Homo sapiens: one gene and its partner. The protein of the gene in region 1 interacts with the protein of each later gene in a biochemical or structural test. Each region holds a gene or a part of one and is shown in the gene's direction. Other genes may lie near its edges.

Region 1 (4,040 bases):
GAATGGGTTAACAGAGTGCAAGCCTGGAGGCCAGGGGAGGGATGAGGGGACCCTGATGGGGCCTCCTAACTGATCCTGACCTCCCCGGCCCCCTGCCCAGTCGGACCTCTTCCAGGATGATCTGTACCCCGACACAGCCGGGCCCGAGGCAGCCCTGGAGGCTGAGGAGTGGGTGAGCGGGCGGGATGCCGACCCGATCCTCATCTCACTGCGGGAGGCCTACGTGCCCAGCAAGCAGCGGGACCTGAAGATCAGCCGGCGCAACGTGTTGTCTGACAGCCGGCCCGCCATGGCCCCGGGCTCCTCCCACCTAGGGGCCCCCGCCTCCACCACCACTGCTGCTGATGCCACCCCCAGCGGCAGCCTGGCCAGAGCCGGGGTATGCACGCGCAGGCAGGGGTGGTGCTGGGAGCCCCAGGTGTGGCCCTGGCCTGCTGTGTGGGCTTCAGCCATTCGCTGTCCCTCTCTGGGGTAGTGGTGGGTTTGGGAGGGCTATGGCTTAGCAGCCCCTGACCACCGCCCCCTACCCCTGCTTCATGTCCCCACAGGAGGCTGGGAAGCTGGAGGAGGTGATGCAGGAGCTGCGGGCCCTGAGGGCGCTGGTCAAGGAGCAGGGCGACCGCATCTGCCGCCTGGAGGAGCAGCTGGGCCGCATGGAGAACGGGGATGCGTAGGGCCACAGCCACACGCCACCTTCATCTCCTCCGCCGCCCCCTTCCCACTCAGCTTCTGCCAGCGGGTCGCACCGGGCTAGCTGGCTGCCCAGAGCCTCTGAGGCAGCGCAGGGGTCAGTTCCCACCCCCACCCGTCCCAGGCCCAGGCCGAAGCCAGCGCCCAGCTTTCCTCACTGTTCCTGTGGAGGATGTCTACGCCCAGGCGAGCTCCTCGACCTCTGAGGGACCATCTCCCCGACCACTGCCCAGCCCTCTGCTCCCTCCCCAGAGGAGGCGGGAGGGTGGGCTCTATATTTTCATTCCAAATAAAATTCTCTTTCTAAAAGCCAGGCTGACCTGCTGCTGCAAGGGTGGGGCTGAGAAGTCTGGAAACCTGGAGACAGAGGATGTCACAGGAGTCACACATGTGCAGAAGGTCTGGGGGCAGTGAGCAGCCCCACAGGCATTGCTCCCCTGGATTGTCAGGCAGGGAAACTGAGGCAGAAGACCTGAGAACACATGCAAGGCTGCATCCAGCTTCAAGTTGGTGCTGCTTCTTCCTTGGAGGACAGGCCCGGCAGCCCAGCCTCCTCCAGAGAGACTGGGGAGGGTCTGGTGTGGACCAGGGGTCCTGCAGCAGGGAGGGGCAGGTGGGGTATGTGGGCAGGAAGCGGAAGCCTGGGCCACCCTTCACTGCAGACGAGCACTGAGCTCACTTCTCGCTCGACACAGCCAGAGCTGGAGGTGGGTGCCCGGCACGGAGGGGCCTGCGGACCAATGGTAAGCCTCGGAGCCCCCCGGGTTCTTGGGATGGGGGCCACAGGCGGTCGGGGCTAGAATGTCTGGGCCTGTGGAGCTAAGGAGGGCCCCACATTGGCCCCAGGGAAGAGGTGAGACCTAAGAGGAGTATGGCAGAGGCTGAACCTTTCTCTCACCTGAGCTGGGCTCCCTGGGACTCCAGGCCTGGCCCCCAGCACCCCATACCGGACCAGGCCCCTGTCAGGAGCCCTGGGAAGGCCCTTACCTGGTCTTCCTGTGAGCGGGAACTTGCATTCCTGGAGCCTGGGCGGACAGCCTGGGGTGGTGGGGGAGGCTGGCTGCACCTCAGCACCCCTCCCCCGACACCCCCCACCTAGCCTGTTCCGACCGCAGACTTCCTCTGGCAGCTGCGCCCGCCTCCCCCAGCCCCCCCCAGCCCCCGGCCCTGCACGCCTGTGGCCCTCAGGGACTGGGAGTGGAACGGAAACCCTGCCGCTGGGGCAGCCCCGTGGTGGGGAGGGAGGAAGAGGGGCCTCACGGACCCCCGTTTGGGGACCTGGCCAAGCAGAAGATGAGCAGTTGCCTCTGGGTGCATCCAGGCCCCTCCATCCCCCATCCCAGGCCTCAGGGAGAGCCAGCCCTGACACCAGCTAGCAACCTCCTTCCCTCCCTCCCATCTCCTCTCCCACCCACCCAGGCAGCCTAGACACATTTAATCCATACTTATTGAGCACCTACTAACATGCTTGACCCAAAAAGCCCCCGTTTCCTAGCAGCTTATTGTGGGGGGTAGATAAGACAATAGACATAAAAAATGAGTACAGTTATCTCCTGCGTTAGGTGACATGGAAGGAAAAAGGCACTGAGTGCTGGGGGGTGCTGGGGTGGGCTGCAGTGATAGACATCAGGGTAGAGGTTAAGGTCAGGTTCAGCCTCACTGGGGTGAAGTTTGAGCACGGTGAGCAGGCCATGCAGCCCGGGGGAGGGGAGGATGGGAGGAGGTGGAGCTTTCCGGGCAGAGGGAACAGCCAGTGCGAAGGCCCCAGGCAGGTGGCTTAATGCAGCTGTTGGGGGAGGTGAGTGGTAGGGAGGAGGCTGGAGGGATGGGGGCTGATCTCACAGGGCCAGAGCCTGGTTGACCAAATAAGGCCTTGGCCTTTTCTGCTTGGCTGTCCCAAGAGGATCCCAAAGAGAAAAAAACGAAAGTGGTCTTGGTCACCCAGCCTGCCCCACACCAGGCCCCACCCCAGGTGCTGAGCCCTCTGAGCCCCTGCCTGTCTCCCACAGGCTCTGCCCTGCACCTTAGGGCTCGGGATGCTGCTGGCCCTGCCAGGGGCCTTGGGCTCGGGTGGCAGCGCGGAGGACAGCGTGGGCTCCAGCTCTGTCACCGTTGTCCTGCTGCTGCTGCTGCTCCTACTGCTGGCCACTGGCCTAGCACTGGCCTGGCGCCGCCTCAGCCGTGACTCAGGGGGCTACTACCACCCGGCCCGCCTAGGTGCCGCGCTGTGGGGCCGCACGCGGCGCCTGCTCTGGGCCAGCCCCCCAGGTCGCTGGCTGCAGGCCCGAGCTGAGCTGGGGTCCACAGACAATGACCTTGAGCGACAGGAGGATGAGCAGGACACAGACTATGACCACGTCGCGGATGGTGGCCTGCAGGCTGACCCTGGGGAAGGCGAGCAGCAATGTGGAGAGGCGTCCAGCCCAGAGCAGGTCCCCGTGCGGGCTGAGGAAGCCAGAGACAGTGACACGGAGGGCGACCTGGTCCTCGGCTCCCCAGGACCAGCGAGCGCAGGGGGCAGTGCTGAGGCCCTGCTGAGTGACCTGCACGCCTTTGCTGGCAGCGCAGCCTGGGATGACAGCGCCAGGGCAGCTGGGGGCCAGGGCCTCCATGTCACCGCACTGTAGAGGCCGGTCTTGGTGTCCCATCCCTGTCACAGCCGCTCACTCCCCGTGCCTCTGCTTCCCAAGATGCCATGGCTGGACTGGACCCCCAGCCCACATGACCATGCCTCAGACTGTCACCCCCTACCAGTTCCCAAGTCCATGTGTACCCCGCTCACCACGGGAACGGCCCCCCCCAACCACAGGCATCAGGCAACCATTTGAAATAAAACTCCTTCAGCCTGTGGCCCTGTGGTCCTACAGAGACCCCTCCCTCCTGGACCAGGGGCTCCTCCTGGCACAATCCAACCCAACCCTGCCCCTAGGCATGCAGCACAAAGAGCCAGGTCAGCACCATGATTCAGCCCTTTAATCTTCCACGGGAGCAGTTGAGCGCGGGGCGTGGCGGGCGGCCCTCCGTGCCCATGATTCAGGGGCACAGCTGCCCCAGCAGACACACACTTTCATACGCACTCACACCCCACCCCCAGACACACCCCCAGGTCTCTGGAACTGGCCCAGGGTCCTGCTGCTCTCACAGCCGCAGGGACAGGGCTCAAGGGCTACCCTCACCCCCACCCGGCTTCCTAGCGCCCTGGACGCCCACGGCCCCTCTTGGACTTCTTGGTCCCTGAGGGGGGACGGATGGGGAGAGGGGCGGTGGTCGAGGGCGGCGGCGGTGGCAGGAGTGGAGGTAGAGGTAGCTCCGTGGGCTCCGGCAGGCTGGGGCTGGGCCGAAACCCCTCA
Region 2 (3,500 bases), on another chromosome or scaffold:
TAAAGTGTTGTAAGCATTAAAAGTTATAATATTTGTGAAAATGCTTTGAAATTATGTGATACTCTGAGAAGTAAATTTTTTCATGTGAGCCCATGAAATCAGAGCACATAGCCTTTTAGCATAAACTTGATTCCAAATGATATCTCTTCCTTTCAGACACTGTGAGCAGATAAAGGGATAGTTTAAGGTTAAGTGATAGAGGCATAATCCCTTATAGGCCTTTGAATTCTTTTAACTTTGCATTCTTTATTTCAGAGATTTTTCAGGCTTCTCCAGATTCTACAGTCTAAATAGTTTGTAAATCCACACACTTCTACTTTGCCAGGGATTTCTTAGTGTAAAAATATCCTGAAGTCTCACCTGCCTTCAATCCTTACTGTGTCCATACCCACCATTACCAGGATAATCTTTGTAAAAGGCAGAACTTACCTTTGTCCATTCCTCTTTTAAAAGCTCCTATTGGTAGAAAATATACTGAACCCGTGATTTGATACCAAGTATGTTTTGGCTCAACTTTTATGAAAACAAATATTTAATTAGAATATACCAACATTTATGAGTTTTCCTTAAAGATAAATTTTGGAGGAAAAAAACTCCATTAGACCAATTTAATTCCCTGATGATTATATATATATTACCTAGTGAAATCCTTGGCAGTTTTTCCATTTTAATTTTAATTTTACTGAACTAATGTTTAGCAGCATCACTTTCATTTAATTTTTACAATAACTATTAGATTCATGAATCCATTTTACCCATGTCAAGTTCTACTGAATATAGCTTATGCTTGGAATTTTCCTTTGTGATTATTACTTTTCTAAAGGTAATTCTTCTTTTCAAACAATACAGATCTAAATTTTCCAAAACCATTTAAATTCTTCTCTTTGGCCAGAAACATTTTCTGTGTGTAGTTTTGGCTACCGCTAGTTTAGTTTTTTTAATTGGTTTTGTGTCTCAATGCTACAAAAAATATAATTTATGTAATTTTTCATTTTTGTCAAACTTAAATCGGGCAATATTAACCATTCTCAATTTTTTGTTGTGTTGAAATTTCTATCAGTGACATTAATGTGGAGATTGACAGCTCTTTGAGCTAGATTCATTTTGAAATTTTAAGACTTTCGATTATTTCTTATCTAGCCAATAGAAACTTTAGAAACACTTTTAAGACTGCTTGATAGCCTGGAATTATTATGTTTGAATTCTCATTCATTTGTATGGTATTCCTCTTATTAGCTTTCACACTTAGTACCAATTTCTTATTCATTATTGGAGCAAAAAGTAAAGAGAAGAATCAAGGTGATAAGTTTAAAATCTTCTCAATGTAAAATAGTGTGTGGGGAAAGTGTCAAATCATCCTACTTTGGTCTTTGTGCATTTAGGAAAAATAAAAGCAATTAGCATTGCACACACATATGTAATTGAATCTCTTCAGATTTGTCTGGCTTTATCTCTAACCACTTTGTGACTCTTTTTGTAACTTGCATTTTTCTAAAAATGTGACCTTGTTTGGTCTTCCTACTGTTGGCCATGCTGTTTTTCCTTCTCTCCACATCTTTTTATCAATGGTGCAAATTATAAATTGTATTCAAATTTACTGTAAAGATCATGTCCTCTAGACAGCCCCTATCCCACTTGTATAACCCTTGCTCTTCAGCCCCTTTCACACCTGCATAGGTATTCTTCTGCTGTGATGATCCTTTGAATAATTCTCTTGGAGTTCTCTTTACCAGGCTCTCTTGCAGCAACTGGTGAGCTCATGTAGGCTATCACTGGGTCTCTGCTTATTTGCCAGTGCCTGCAGGTCCTCAGTACCTGTTTGCTGAACAAACGAATGGTCTGTCAGCTTAACCCAACTCTGTATGTAGAAGGCACTTAATAATTCTTAAAAACAATTTTGATTCTGTCCTTTTATTGTTATTTATGGGAATTATTTATGGTAAAAATTTCTACATAATAGAAAATTTGGAAAATGTCAAGAAATAGAAGGAAAAAGAAATTGCTTAGAGCCCATGCTAACATTTTGTTTTTCTTCCTCTATCTTTTGATCACATGCTGTGTATGAAATTTCATGTTCAATTTTTTCCCAAGTAAACCTTGATTATTCTAGACAATTTGAAAAATATAGAAATGAATAGAAAAATAAGAATTTCAGGTTTCCAGTTCTCAGGATCTAAAAACTTTTTGAGTATTTCATTTGACTAGGACAACTAGATCTATTCAGTTATTTATTAACTTATTAGTTCATTTGATAAACAACTATTTTGTGAGTGTTTTCCATGTAATTTGGGCTGAGGACACCTATCCCATGAAGCCCGTATTTTCTATCAGTGGCTTCTTGGAGATGGTGTTTTAAATCTTCCAAAATCTTCATCAGCACCCCAAAACTTCCTCCTCAAAGTAACAACATACCTTGCTACAGATAATTATTGGTGTTATCAATGTTTTATAAATTATAAATTTAAAAATCACTATCTTAAGATCTATATATAACATATTAAGTAAAACTTATATTCTTACAAGACTTCCTCCAGGTCCCTGTTACAACCAGATTTTCTTTGCAGACTTTTAAATTATGGAAGTTCTGGTGCTGCCACTGAGTTGTGTAGATTATTATTAGATATTCAATAAATAAAGTTGGTAGATGTGAAGAGGTACTAGACAATAGTCCTATTTTGTTTTGGTTTGTTTGTTTTGTAATTTATTCTGAAAAAATGTTTATGTGGAGAGAAAAGGGAAAACATACAGAAATACACAGCACACAAACAAATTCTTACTTTTTTTTGGTAGTCTTTCTAATTTTCCAAGGTCACCAGCTAATAGCAAATGAGAGTTGTAGGGGGTGGGGTGAAGGCTGGGGTCTTAATCGGGGTCTATCTGATTCTAGATAGACCAGATTCTAGATTTTCCACTCGGTTACTCAATCTTCTTAGTGGTCAGTTTAATAACCTGGAATTTAAGACATGACTGTGTGATGATGGGCAAATCACAGCAGGACTGAATGGGAGCTGGTAATTTCTCAGAGGTTGTTTGTGTGACATATGCATGTAAGTTCATTCACCTGATTTAGCTACTTACATGAACCATTGTGCACTGAGCTGCTTCTATATCTTTAGCATATTCTGTATCTATGTAAAATTCACATAAGATTGTATGACTTTTATAAAAAACAAAAAGACATCTTTGATTAATTTGTCTTCACTATGAATACTGATGTGATGTGTTACAATCATCCTGAAAAGGAGGCTAACAAAGGACAGGACTGAGTCTGTCTTGAGGTGAGTGATATGATGGAAAGAATGGATTTTCCCCCACCCAACTCATTTTTGATATTACATAAAGTGAAAAACATTAAATAATTCACCAAAGTATCTAGATTTTTTTTTGTTTTTGAAGTGCAAGGGAAGTAACTTGACCTTTGTTAAACACTTTGATCATGGAAAACACATAAGGTTCTCATCTTATTCCAGGAAGTGTAGACACTAGATAATCTTTTCATA

The links. Proteins that work in one complex are often made in the same cells at the same time.
Region 2: the proteins of PTPRCAP (region 1) and PTPRC form a complex in vitro, tested with the Homo sapiens proteins (one study listed by BioGRID).

The regions. Positions count from the first base shown.
Region 1 is NC_000011.10:67,435,010-67,439,049, reverse strand, and holds PTPRCAP (protein tyrosine phosphatase receptor type C-associated protein), read left to right. Parts: upstream 1-1,367; 5' UTR 1,368-1,430; coding exon 1,431-1,433; exon of another isoform or gene 1,434-2,699; coding exon 2,700-3,317; 3' UTR 3,318-3,540; downstream 3,541-4,040. Other genes in the region: CORO1B (coronin-1B), read left to right, coding at 101-379, 549-674; RPS6KB2 (ribosomal protein S6 kinase beta-2), read right to left, coding at 3,881-4,040.
Region 2 is NC_000001.11:198,645,540-198,649,039, forward strand, and holds part of PTPRC (receptor-type tyrosine-protein phosphatase C isoform 1 precursor), read left to right. Parts: intron 1-3,500. UniProt on the Homo sapiens protein: Protein tyrosine-protein phosphatase required for T-cell activation through the antigen receptor. Acts as a positive regulator of T-cell coactivation upon binding to DPP4.